4 linked regions of the Homo sapiens genome follow. Changing the gene in region 2 together with the main gene of any one other region gives a genetic interaction. Each region holds a gene or a part of one and is shown on either strand. Other genes may lie near its edges.

Evidence for each region.
Region 1: changes in DAZAP1 (region 2) and CARM1 together harm fitness less than expected from each alone (positive genetic interaction), as found in Homo sapiens cells (one large-scale study listed by BioGRID).
Region 3: changes in DAZAP1 (region 2) and TRAPPC12 together harm fitness more than expected from each alone (negative genetic interaction), as found in Homo sapiens cells (one large-scale study listed by BioGRID).
Region 4: changes in DAZAP1 (region 2) and RAB2A together harm fitness less than expected from each alone (positive genetic interaction), as found in Homo sapiens cells (one large-scale study listed by BioGRID).

Annotation. Positions count from the first base shown.
Region 1 is NC_000019.10:10,913,053-10,916,552, reverse strand, and holds part of CARM1 (histone-arginine methyltransferase CARM1), read right to left. Parts: intron 2,677-3,500; coding exon 2,499-2,676; intron 147-2,498; coding exon 56-146; intron 1-55. UniProt on the Homo sapiens protein: Methylates (mono- and asymmetric dimethylation) the guanidino nitrogens of arginyl residues in several proteins involved in DNA packaging, transcription regulation, pre-mRNA splicing, and mRNA stability.
Region 2 is NC_000019.10:1,421,086-1,424,585, reverse strand, and holds part of DAZAP1 (DAZ-associated protein 1), read right to left. Parts: intron 3,439-3,500; coding exon 3,328-3,438; intron 2,239-3,327; coding exon 2,190-2,238; intron 1,167-2,189; coding exon of another isoform or gene 1,075-1,166; exon of another isoform or gene 876-1,074; intron 1-875. UniProt on the Homo sapiens protein: RNA-binding protein, which may be required during spermatogenesis.
Region 3 is NC_000002.12:3,382,694-3,386,193, forward strand, and holds part of TRAPPC12 (trafficking protein particle complex subunit 12), read left to right. Parts: intron 1-3,500. UniProt on the Homo sapiens protein: Component of the TRAPP complex, which is involved in endoplasmic reticulum to Golgi apparatus trafficking at a very early stage.
Region 4 is NC_000008.11:60,617,987-60,621,065, reverse strand, and holds part of RAB2A (ras-related protein Rab-2A), read right to left. Parts: intron 2,487-3,079; coding exon 2,418-2,486; intron 393-2,417; coding exon 297-392; 3' UTR 1-296.

The DNA of each region.
Region 1 (3,500 bases), 9.5 Mb from region 2:
TGTCCCTGAGAAGGCAGGCTGTGGGGCCCAGGCGGGACACCCAGGGCACACTCACCAGAAGTTGGCCTTGGTGAACTGCTCCATGTAGAGCTGTTCATCCGTGAAGGGTGCAAGGTGGACGTCACCAATGGTAGGAAACATGTTTCCTGGGAGTGGGGCAGGGAGGGGTGCTGGCGTCAGGTGACACATCCCACACTGCCTGGCAGAGCTTCCAAAGGACCCCAAGACCCCCAACCCTGGGTGCTCCCAGCCTGTCATCCATTCGTTCCTGCACTCCTGTGACAGTGGCACCGAGCGCCTATTCTGATCAGTGTTTCATCACCACCACGGGTACCTGACCTGCACCAGCTCACGAATTCCACCTGAGACTGGGAGGCTGGTGGCTCATCTTTATGTCCTATTACTAGACCTGGCAGGTGTGAGGGACCTGCCAAAGACTCACGGGGAAGCAGGCAGTGCCCGGGATGTGGCCAGGCGCTGCCTCTCAGGCCCTGCCGTCTGTGCATGTGTGCAGCCGGGAAAGCATAGCAAAGTTGCTCTGGACAGAGGGAGGGTGGTGGGCCCCGGGCTACCCCAACGCCGCTGGGGACCTCAGTTGAGGCCAAGAGCCAGGTGGGGGAAGCCAAATCCACACCACAGGGACTGCCTAGGTTCTGGCACAGGCACCCAGCCGGCAGGATGGGCCACTTGGCCTGCCTGGTCTGGGCACACAGACTGAGGGAAGGGCAGGGCCTCCCTCTGTGACTCAAGGGTAGACGCATGAGTCAGGGCCAGTGGCAGGGAGGATCAGGGCCCCGCAGCCCCGCCTGCCCCAAGGAGCACCTGGCCTCCAGATGTGGGCCCCCCAGCCTTGCAAGCTGGGGGAGGAGATCCTGAGGTATCAGTGGGACTCTGCCTCCTCCTTACGCCACCAGGCTGTACCCGAGGCGAGAGCTGCAGGGCTGCAGCTGCTGGAACGGGGAGGGAGATGCACATGCTGCGGCTTCTGCCCTGGGGGACCTGGGGGCACCATGGGAAGTGACCCAGCCTGGAAGGAACCTCTGGCTCCTGCTGACCAGAAGACATGTGACTGGGAGAGGGGAGGGCTGCCTTTAACCCCTGGAAGAGCTTCCTGAGCTGGACAGGAGTCCTCCTTGCACAGGCCTGGCCTCCCCCCTCCCTGCAAGCTGGCTGCTGGGACGTCGGGGGCACATGCAGCTGCCCACAGAGCCTGACTGCCATCTGGCTTCATGTCCCATCGGGAGGGGCCCTCTCTGCTGGGGCTGTCCCCACCCCCATCCCCACCATCAGGGCAGAAGGGGAGGAGAGTGGGGCCCACAGCCCCTGGAGCAGCCTTGCTTCCCATACTCACACCCAAGACATGAGACACAGCTGTGGGACGCCACCTCCCACCTCCAGGAGCACAGCCAGCCAGGACCCTAGGGCCTGGATCCAGGGCGGGCCAGAGATGAGAGTGGAAGCTTCCCCCCTGCCCCTGCCTGCACAAGCCCCACCAGCCTGCTGCTGCCCACGCTCCATCCCATGGCTGCTACCCTGGCTGGGGACCTGTACCCTGCCACACGCACACACAGCTGCTTGCCTGTACAGAAATGCTCAGACGCTCACATACCTAGCATGAGAAGAGCCACAGGCACATGCCTCAGGCGTCAGGGCTGCACAGACCCCAAGACAGATGGGCAAATAGAAACAGTCACCCAGGCCAGGCACAGTGGCTCATGCCTATAATCCCAACACTTTGGGAGGCTGAGGCGGGTAGATCACCTGAGGTCAGGAGTTCGTGACCAGCCTGACCAACACGGTGAAACCCCATCTCTACTAAAAATACAAAACTTAGCTGGGCGTGGTGGTGCACACCTGTAATCCCAGCTACTCAGGAGGCTGAAGCACAAAAATTGCTTGAACTGGGGAGGTGCAGGTTGCAGTGAGCCGAGATCGCACCACTGCACTCCAGCCTTGGCAACAAGAGTGAAACTCTGTCTCAAAAAAAGAAACAGTCACCCAGTGACCAGAGGCCATACCCAGAGGCACGGATGGGAAGTGACAGATGGGCTTGCCAGACAGCTACCTCACCTCCTCACACACGTACACTCGCACCCACACCCCTGCATTTGCACACATGCTCGCCCACCCCACCTCCTGGACTGTGAGGAGAGCAGGGCTTGTTGGGGAACTGCTGACCACAGAACCTGTCCCAATCCCCACTCCCAGCCAGAGGCTGTCCCGCAGGAGCAGGACATGGGACGGCAGAGGTGCCAGGAGATCCTGTGTACCCTGTCTGGGCGAGTGGGCAGCTGGGTGTCTGGCCGTGTTTGGGGCCCAGGGCTCCAAAAGCCACAGCTGGCTGGAGTGGGGTTGGGGTGGGAGCGGGGGAAAAGCCCAGGCTTCCCTACACCCCGGGCCACCGACAGTAAGCAGGGAGCTGAAGCACTGATGGCCTGGCTCAGCGGCAGCCAGGGCCTCCACCGAGGGGCCTGGCCTGTGTACCCCCCAGTGCTCACCGCTGGGCTTCAGGTACTTCTTGGCGTGGAGGTAGCTCTCCAGCATGCGCTCGTTGAAGAGCATGTAGCCCATGGGCTCCGAGATGATGATGTCCACCTGCTCGGGGAGTGACACCTCCTCCACCTTGCCCGGGATGACCACGATGCGGTCCGTCAGGTTGTTACTCTTCACCAAGACCTGCAGGCGGGCAGGGCCATGTGGGCTTCCCTGCGTCTTCCTGCCATGGGGCCCTCCCTAGACCTGCTCTCAAGGGACAGCCTCCATCCACACATGGGCATTGGGTGCCCCTCTGCCTGCTTCGCTGGCGCCCCAACCATGGCTGCGATTGGCCATAGCCTGTTAAGAGCTCACTGTGGGCCGGGCACGGTGCCTCATGCCTGTAATCCCAGCACTTTGGGAGGCCGAGGCAGGCGGACTGCTTGACCTCATAAGTTGGGAGACTAGCCTGACCAACATGGAGAAACCCTGTCTCTACTAAAAATACCAAAAAAAAAAAACTATTTTTTTTTTCTTTGAGACAGATTCTCACTCTGTTGCCCAGGCTGGAGGTGGTAGTGGCGCCATCTCGGCTCACTGCAACCTCTGCCTCCCGGGTTCTAGCGATTCTCCCACCTCAGCCTCCCGAGTAGCTGGGACTACAGGCACCCACCACCACGCCTGGCTAATGGGGTTTTGCCACGTTGGTCAGGCTGGTCTCGAACTCTTGACCTCAGGTGATCCGCCCACCTAAGCCTCCCAAAGTGCTGGGATTACAGGTGTGAGCCACCATGCCTGGCCTAAAAATACAAAAATTAGCCAGTTGCAGTGGTGGATCCCAGCTATTCAGGAGCCTGAGACAGGAGAATCACTTGAACCCGGGAGGTGGAGGTTGCAATGAGCCAGGATCGCACCACTGCACTCAAGCCTGAGCAACAGAGTGAGACCCCCCCCAAAAAAAAAGAGAGTTCACTGTGACCCCGGCCCTGCCTCAGGGCCGTCCCCTGCTGCGGCCTCCTAGGTCC
Region 2 (3,500 bases):
AAGCTGAAGAGACAGGGGCCAGGGCTGCTGTAGCTGGGACCAGGCAGAAACAGGACAAGCAAAACTGGGGGCGGGGAAAGATGGAAACGGGGCAGAAAGGGCAGCTCAGACTGTGAGGGGACAAAGGTCACTGTGGTTCAGGAGCCTCCCACCGTCCTGAGCACACGTGTGCACCTGAGCGTGACTGTGCACGCAGTGTCTGCAACCAGACGGAGGGGGAGGGGGGAGGGGGAGGGGGAGGAGGAGGGGGAGGGGGAAGAGGAGGAGGAAGAGGAGGAGGGACCAGGAAGGCAAGGCACACAGCGAGAGGAGCGCAGGATGGAGAAGACCTGAGGGGACTGAGAGGCGAACGAGGCAGCGGCTGGAGCGGGCGGGCCGAGGGTAGACGTGGGAGGGCCAAGCAGGGACCCGCACAGACACTGTGTGCCCGAGACACAGGCGGGGTCCCTGACAGGGACATGGCCATGACCTTCAGTCAGTGGAGAGGAAGAGGGAGGAGGTGGCGGGGAGGGGGACACAGACCCGTCTCAGAAGATGCAGAAAGGCCAAGGGAAGGGGACACACTCTCTGGGAGGACCCGCTAAGCAGCGCCGCAGCGTCTCTCCGGCCCTCCACTCGCCTGACACCCAAGGGACACTTTCAAAGCCCAACAGCTAAGGACATGTGGCCACGTGCTGGCCCCGAAGTGCTCTGTACACCAGTGTGGACTCAGCGACACTCGCCACGTCCCGTCCACACGGGACAGGACAGGACGCGAGGAGAAGGGGCGCCAGCTCTGGGCAGCCGGAGGGGGACCGGGAGGATCTAGAAGCAACCCTCAGATTCCCGCGCGCTCAAGTTTCCCAAGATCAGAGGCAGTATTGGAACACAGCATCGGTGATGAAACAACGTATTTAGAAGTAGACATTTTCGCAAACTGCAGGAGTGTCTGAAACCACAGGGCTCGCCTGGTCCGGGCACAGTGCAAGAGGCGCTGGGTCCTGGGGGAGGCGCCCTGAGCGCTGTCTAGGAATGCGGCTGTCAAGAGGCGACATCACCACTGAGGAAGCGGGACAGAAACACCTGAAACTTCGTTTACACCCCACTGGAGCAAAGCCGCTCCCTCCTCTGACTGCGGGACTGGCCTGTACCTGTGTGATATAATTTAGCACCTGGAGAAGAGAAATCTAAAGAGATATCGTTAATCACACACAATTCACAGAGAGAAAAGGAAAAACAGCTTACTTAACATCACTGTACTTTACTATGAAACACTTAAGTACGTCACTAAGCATGTATGTCTAAATTAAGTTACGACTAAGACTTAACAGCGTAACCGACATGGAGGAGGAGCACTCCTAACCGTGGGGAGGGAGGTTCAAATGGCAAACTATGCTCCAGCATGGTGGGCATGCTGCGGCGCCACCTGGCGCTCGGGGCTGCCCCGACTGACCTGGGCCGGTGGTGCGGGGGCGGCACGGACGTGGCGGGCAGACCCAGGCTGCAGGTCTGCTCACGTGGCCGGCCAAAAGCAGCTGATGAACCAAAACCATGCGGGCGGGCGGGACAGACAGCAGCAGCCACGGAAAAGGGGCACAGAAACTGGGCGCCCATCGTCCCAGCTCCACAAACCAGCATGGATGGGTGTGCAAGAAGCTGAGGGAAAATGAGGGGAGGCCCTGAGGTGACTCCTCACCCCTCCTCCCACCTGCCCTGCTGACTTCAGAGAGGGGAGAAAACTGAAAAAAAAGAAAAAGAAAAGAAAAGGAAAAAAGAAAGAAAGAAAAAAAAAGCATGGGATGGATCACGGAAAATCCAAACTCCACACCGAGCCAGCTGACCCAGCTGACGACACGAAATGAGACCGGCCACACTGGGAGGACTGGATGAGGGTGAAGGAAGGTCAAATGCAGAAGGACCACACTCTTCCGGACAGTGAAAAACAGAAGCCAGGCCGAGACTCATGACAAGTCGTAAAAACTTCAAAAGAACAAGCCAAAAAACAATGTGTGACGTCTGACCTCGGGAAGCACAGACAGGCTGAATGGGGTGCACATGAGGAGCCCACGTTTTAGTCATTTGTCTCCAAATCGTCCCTTCCTGAGGCTGTTTGCTACAGCCGCCACCTGTGTGTGCCTGGCGGGTGAGATAGTTTGCCATCTGAGGGAGGAGCAGGGAGAAGGCCGAGGTCAAACTAGATCTGCCCTTACCTCGGGGCCTCTGCTTCTCGGCGTCATAGATCATGACTACCTCCGTGACCTGGAAGGAGAGGGTGGCGTCAGCACGGACACCAGGGCCAGCACCACAGGTGGTCTTCCGAGGGCACAGCCTGTTCCCACGAACCCAAACTCTCGCACAGGGTGCGCCCTCCCTGAGCGGGGGAGGTGCACGGGCAACAGCTGCTCCGTGGGGCTGCTGTCTGAGAAAGGCTGGAGCCCCAACACTCCCAGGGCCAGACGCAGGCAGGGAGAAGCAGCTCCAGGGCAGGCGTCTGGATACCCGCCTCCGGGCTGCCCGTGGCCCCGCTCACGTGTGTGCTGACGGACATGAAGGGCCAACAACGCCGACCACGCATCCTAGCAGGGGACGTGGGAGCCAGGAGACCCCACAGAAGCCCTTCCCACCCAAACGCGGGAAGCAAAGGGCACGCTCGGCCCTCACTCGAAGTGGCGGGGCAGCCACACACAGCTCCTCTGCAGACCCTGCTCTTCCAGGCCCCGCTCAGGCCTCTCATTCCTGGCCCAGGCCCGTGGCACCCTCAGGTACCACCTGATGAACGTGCGCAGTACTCAGGCACGCAGGGCTGTCCTGCTGGCGGGGCTCGGAGTGTGACCTGCGGGGCACGGCAGGAGTCCCAGCAGGACCTTGGGGTGACCACACGCCCCTGCCTTGGGTGACTAGGAGGGCTCCCCGCCGGCCCCCTCCGGCTGTCCCAGCTCCCTCTGGCACTGGGCTCAACGGAGCTCGGGCATTCTCCCACCTGCCCAGTGGAAAGTCAGCTCTGTGGGGCTGGCTCGCCCAGGCCACACTGAACCCCGTTTCTGTGTAACTGCCCTTCTCTGACACTGGACCCCACGGTGTTCACAATGGAATCGGGCGGCCGCCCTGAAGGCTGTCAGGCTGGTTCACCGCCCAACCACCCTACTGGGACACGAAATGGCCATGAAGGCAAAGGCCGGGCTTTCCACCTTTCCGGAGGGCGCAGGCGTTGGGGAAATACGAGACAGCGAGCTCCCAGCCTGAAAGGCCCGTGCACCTGTGGCTCGGCCACTCCAGCCCCAAGAAGGCCCAGGCCTGAGCAGAAGCGGCTCTGTCCCCACAGTGCTGCCGGGGTGGGGAGAAACTCACCACTCCGAACTTCTTGAAGTATTCCCTGAGCTCTGTCTCACCACAATTGTGAGGAATTCCACCGACAAATATCTTATTTGATTTACTGTTATCGCTCCTGGGTCCTTTCTGCTGTTGAAGAAGGGAAGGATAGTTAGTTCACACGGGAACCCTCCAAACCCTCCCGCGAGCTG
Region 3 (3,500 bases), on a different chromosome or scaffold from region 2:
GCAGGAGGATCACTTGAGCTCAGAAGTTTGAGACCAGCCTGGCCAACATATTGAGTCCCCATCTCTACAAAAAATACAAAAATAGCTGAGTGTGGTGGTGCACACCTGTAGTCCCAGCTACTCCAGAGGCTGAGGCAGGAGGATGGGCTTGAGCCCAGAAGATCGAGGCTGCAGTAAGCCATCATCGTCCCATTGCACTCCCGCCAGGGTGACAGAGCCAGACTATGTCTCATAAAATAATAATACTAATAAAATAATAGAAATAACTTAAACCATGGGTGAAAAATTGAATTGTTCTGGGAAAAATCAAGATGTATAGTTATCAAAGTGATAAGATAATGTGCTTTTTAAACTTTACTAGATAATACCAAGTGGTTTCTCAACATGGATGTTCAAAGGTATACCTCTTTCAGCTCTGTTGCTTATTTTTCTAATGGATCATTTAGTGTGCTTTTATTAATTTGTAGGGATTCTTTATGTATTCTTCGTGTTAATCCTTTCTCAGTTACATTTGTTTGTTTCACTTTTTTTAGGTTTTTAATGATAGAACTTTCCATTTTAATATAGCAGATGTATCCATTTTCCCTTTATGGTTTGTACTGATTATGCCTAGTTTAAGAGGCTTTGCCTACTCTGAAAATATATTCTCTTATATTTTCTTCTGAAAGTTTTGAAGTTTTGCCTTTCACAGTTAATTTTTGATCCCCCACCCCCGCCCCGCCCGAGACGGAGTCTTTCTCTGTCACCCAGGCTGGAATGTCGTGCCTCAATCTTGGCTCACTACAACCTCTGCCTCCTGGGTTCAAGCGATTCTCCTGCCTCAGCCTCCCGAGTAGCAGAGTAGCTGGGATTACAGGTGCCCGCCACCACACCTGGCTAATTTTTGTATTTTTAGTAGAGACGGGGTTTTACCATGTCGGCCAGGCTCATCTTGAACTCCTGACCTCGTGATACGCCCGCCCCGGCCTCCGAAAGTGCTGGGATTACAGGCGTGAGCCACCGCACCCGGCCTTCACAGTTAAGTTTTTAACGTCCCTGAGATTGATACTGTGTCTGTGGTGAGACAAGATTCCAAGTTTATTTTTTCCCAGCTGCATGATTTGTCTACACATCACTCAAGGAAAATCGTCTCTTCCTTTGATGTGTGCTACATATTCCCTTGTGATAGTTCAGTCTTGTTTTTTTTTTTTTTTTTTTTTTTTTTTTTTTTTTTTTTTTTGAGATGAAGTTTCGCTGCTGTTGCCCAGGCTGGAGCACAGTGGTGCGATCTCGGCTCACTGCAACCTCCGCCTCCTGGGTTCAAGTGATTTTCCTGCCTCAGTATCCCAAGTAGCTGGGATTACAGGCGCCCTCCACCACACCTGGCTAATTTTTGTATATTTAGTAGAGACAGTGTTTCACCATGTTGACCAGGCTGGTCTTGAACTTCTGACCTCAGGTGATCCACCCTCCTCGGCCTCCCAAATTGCTAGGATTACAGGCCTGAACCACCGTGCCTGGCCCAATATTTCAGTCTTTATACCATAGATTTTTGATGTATTCTACATAAATAATCATACACGAAGAATGAAGGTTTGTATTTTTTTCTTTTCAGTTTTTATTGTAGCTTTTAGTTATTTTTCTTGCCTTAATCCTGCCCGAGGACTCCAGTATTAGGCAGCATAAAAATGTTGAAGAGGACATCTTTATCTTTTTTCTACTTTTAAAGAGAATGCTTTAAACGTTTCACTGTTAATTTGAGGTTTCCTTTAGGTTTTTGGTAGATACCTTTGATTGCATTAAGGAAGTTACTTTCTGTTGCTAGTTTGCTGACAGGTTTTATCTTGAGCAGATGCTGAATTTTATTAGATACTTTCTTGTGCATCTATTGAGATAGTCATGTACTTTTATTTAATCTATCGCATTAAACCAACAGTACATTTCTGGGATTACCTGAGTTTGGTAGAAAATAAATACATTGCTGATTCAGTTAGCTAATATTTCAAGATTTTTGCATGTGTGTTCATGAGTGAGATGATAGCTTCCCTTTTAGTATGGCCTTGTCAAATTTTGGTCTCAAGGTTATATTAGCCTTATAAAGTGAATTGGGTCATGTGTCTTTTTTCTTCTCTGCAAGAATTTTTGTACTGTAGGAATTATCTGTACGGAATCTTTGGTAGAATTCACTGGTAAACCCTCTGGACCCTATATTTTCTTTGTAGGAAGACTTAACTACTGGTTATACTTTTTTTATGGTTATAGAACTATCTCGTCATATATACATGGTTATTACTAGTGTCTGCTTTGCATTTGAACCTTACATTGGAATAAGATTAGAGTAAGGAAACCCTTGAAGTGAAGAAGCTATTTTGCTACAAATTATATGTCCATTCTCACAAAATCTTATGTATATAATTTATATAGATGTAGCTTTATAATATATGTATGTCTTCCCATTCATAAAAGCATCATCTAAATCACGTTTTATATCATTTTTATTTGAGCATTCCTCTTGATTTTCTAGAGAAGAAACCCTCAGATCCTTACTTACAAGCATTTTCCTGCATCTAGATTTTATTTGTGTGAAAGCAAAAGTGATCATCCTTGCCCTAAATTATTAGGGCTTTTTATTACTTTGGTATTTACTTAAGAATAAAATTTATTTTTTTATTTTCTTCTCTTCTCAAAAGTGGTTTGCAGGTATTAATGAAAATTTTGGACATTCCCATTTTATCAGTTCTCCTTAATTTACAATTTATAAAGTTTTTAAGCTTTATAATTTAGAAGCATTTTACCTTAATTTTTATTATTTTGGTGGTTTTTCTAGGCGATGTTTTTTGTTATTATATCTCTGATAAACAGATTTCCCTAAATCTTACAGGTTTAAAGCAGCTTCATCTTCACAATAGTAAGAATTGTTTCTTTAAAAAGTTTCTTCACAAAGGCAATAAAACTTTTAAAATCTGTGAGATTGAATCAGAATTAGCTTTAGAACCTAGAATTTTGTTAGGGCTGAGGGTAGATGAGACGGAGGGAAGATCCCTTTCTCTCATCATTAGCTTATATCGAAATCAATTCTTATTTCTAAAATAAAATACGCAGACCACGCTAGTGCCTTCAAGTCCTGCTGGGAGACTTCAGAGGGGGCACTGCCTCATGCTGCCTGTTTGCTCCTTGTGCCCGGCCTCTATCCCTGCACAGGAAGGACCCGAAGGAGCAGCCTTACCATGCACAGGGGGCTCCCCCTTTGGGGTTCTAGGGCAATTTGTTCTTCGGGCTCCCGGTGAAACATGGCAGGAAAAAAAACGTTTTACTCCTTTTCATTGGATTTTTTATTCATTTATACTTAACAATTATTGGATGAATGTATAAGGGAATTAGTAGCTGACCAGGCTGAACCGGAAACTTCTTCAAAATGTATAACTTGGATTATGTACTTTAAAATAATGTTTTGGGAAGGCTGACTCATTGGGAATACTATGATGGAAGTGTTGACAGTGAGAAAAGGGTAGTCTTATCTA
Region 4 (3,079 bases), on a different chromosome or scaffold from region 2:
TGTAGTGTTTAATACAATTCAGTTCGTAGTTAAGGGCACAAGACAACATTTAACAAAAATAATCACATCAATTGACCTAGAAATCAAATGCAAATAGATATGAATACAATCTCCAAAATCTGTCTTTTAAGTGAACATTAACCATTTATTCAAAGTTATACAAGAATTTGACGGATTAAAGTCTTCTGTGACATAAAGCCATTTCAAATAGTTTCATGTCTCAGCTGAGCAGGAGGAGAGGGGGTGAAAGAATAAGTGAGTAGGCCCCGTTGGGCAGCTAGACAGTAAAAACAGACTCAACAGCAGCCGCCCCCAGCCTGCTGTCCTCCCTGATTGCCTGCATGTGTTGCATTGGTAGCAGCATGCTGAGGGCCAATTTTAATGCCATTTGCCTGAAATAAAAGAGAACAGAACAATAAATATGACCAGACAATATAGTTTAACTAATTCTTAAAAAACTCATTTAATTCTTTATGATACAATTTTATCAAACAACTGAGAAAAATACAGCAAGTAGATTTTAGCAACAATTAAAACAATATCTCCTAAGGGATGTTCCTTCCTTTTAAAAACACTGTGGAAATGTTTCTGAAAATAATTCTTTATCATACCAGGTACGGGGTAAACAGTTATTGGATAATGCTGCTTTTCAGGAAATTCTCATAATGCAGAAATCATTTAAAATAATTATTGCAAGTAATCTTTAAAGCATAAAAATACCCAAAGCCCATGCTGCTTTAATACAACGTAAAATCTTTTCTCTAGACAGTGTTTCTGTTCCATGTTGAATCAGCTGTACAGGCTAAGGGCATATGAGTGTTCTGTGTCATCAATAATTTCTATGATCCCCAAAGACATGGCAGCTTGCCAAGAACCCACACACAGAGTAGTTCTTTCATTCATCAAACTCACACTTATGTCTTAACCCTCACTCCCTCAAGTGGATTTTACCTAAAAATACAACACTTTGAGAAAAGTAATACAGTAGCTTCAGAAATTAAGCTCTTAAGGAAACTTTACGTCACAGTAAATCTCAGATTTATAGTGCTTGGCAGTTGTTCTGCAACAGTAGTAGCCTTGGGGTTTCTGGCACTAGCTCAGTATTGACAGCAGCTGATGTGGTTTCTTTTCGCTCTTTTGACTCCTCTTTAATAAAAAGCATGCCCTATGGCTCATTGATTTTGCCCCCTCTGGGCTGGTAGCAACTTCTTGAGGAGTCAAGGAGTCAGACTTGGCATTAGGCCAAATAAATAGCACGGCCTGTTGGCTCCCAACAGCACATTACAATCAAAGCTGCATAAGGCACAGTAAAGCAGTCAGCTACTATATGAAACCAGACAGAAACAATGAATGTGCCCTTTTAGATAGAGGCCCAATTACTGTTCAATTTATATGGCATTAGTCTCTGAATGGTGTCACCTTTAAACTAACTCAAGAAGTACCGTCATATAAGCCTAGAAGATAGGATTTAGAAACTATATTACTCCAAATTAAACAATGAAAAAATCATGTACTTTTTGGAAACCTTAGGTAAACTGCTGTTTGTCTGAGCAGAGACTACTGAAGTAATAGAGAGCCTCATTTATGTATAGGATGAGAGAGACATACATAATGGCTTCCTAACACAATGCTTTTCTAACTGCAACTGGGGAGAAACCAGGGCTTTTCTTTCAGAAGCCAGAAATCTTAATACAGAATGGCAAAAATATTTATGTAAGAATAAGTAGGCTACATCCACATAAACATTTTGAAATAAATACAGATAAATGCAGAGTGGGGATGTGGGTCAAGTGATGATCTTTGGTGAACACTCTGAATTAGATGCTTCAAAGCTTTACATTTTATCCTAATCATGTTGACCAAAACAGGATCAAAATAACATTACAAAAAACCCTATGCCAAATGCCAATTTTATATATATATATATGAATTTAGTCTCCTGAAAACATGCTATGCTATATTGGGAGTAATTTCCAAATTTGGTATTTCCCTCTTTCCTGCCAGATAACAGAGAGAGCATCTTGCATTAGTACATAGTACATGCATTTATATACCAGAACATTATTCCCAAAGCAGATGACACCATATGGTCATGTGGATAAAAGTGGATTTTCTTTTCTCTTTGGGGGATTTATATTATTTTGCATTGCTTGCAATGAATGGATAGGGCCACTTACTTTAATCCATTTCCATAGACAAAGTGTTGCTCTACTAGAACATAAATATTTAACTACTATACCACATATACCAATTTTTCAGTTGGATGACTGTAAACTAATGGTGTTAACTGATTATCATGATTGATTTTAGGAATTAAAAAAATTATAAAATAATGAATTATAAAATAAAAAATATAAAATAGTAATCAAAAGTGAACTCTAAATTAATATTGACCAACAATATTTATATGTATATACCTCATTATTAATGTCAAAGACTCCTTCTTGAATTTTTTCATAAATTTCTTTTGCTGTATTAATAAATGCCTGAAATATAGAGAAATTGGTTCATATTATATAAAACCAAAGCAGTAAAATAACATTATATATGCTCTATAGAATATCATAACATTCAACATATGAAAGTCAATCGACGTAATACATATTAATAAAGAACAAAGATATTAATAACATATTAATAAAGAACAATCGATGTAATACATTATATTAATAAACAAGCCCTCATGATCATCAATAGACATAGAAAAAGCATTTGACAAAATCCAACATTTCATGATAAAAACACTCAAGTCGAAATAGAAGGGAACTCCTCAACCTGATCTAAAGAATGGCATCTAAGAAAAACTACATCTAACATCATATTCGAAGATGAAGGCTGAAAGCCTTTCCCCTAAGATTAAGAACAAAGGATGTACGCACATGCTAATTAGCATTACAAACAGCATTATTCACAACAGCCAACAAGTGCAAACTACAGAAATGTTCAGTCAATAAAAAACAAAATTTGAGATATTCAATTAGTAGAATATTATTTGGCCATAAAAAGGAATGAAGTACTGATTCATGCTACAATGTGGATGAACCTTGAAAACACTGTGCTAAATGAAAGAAGGCAGACA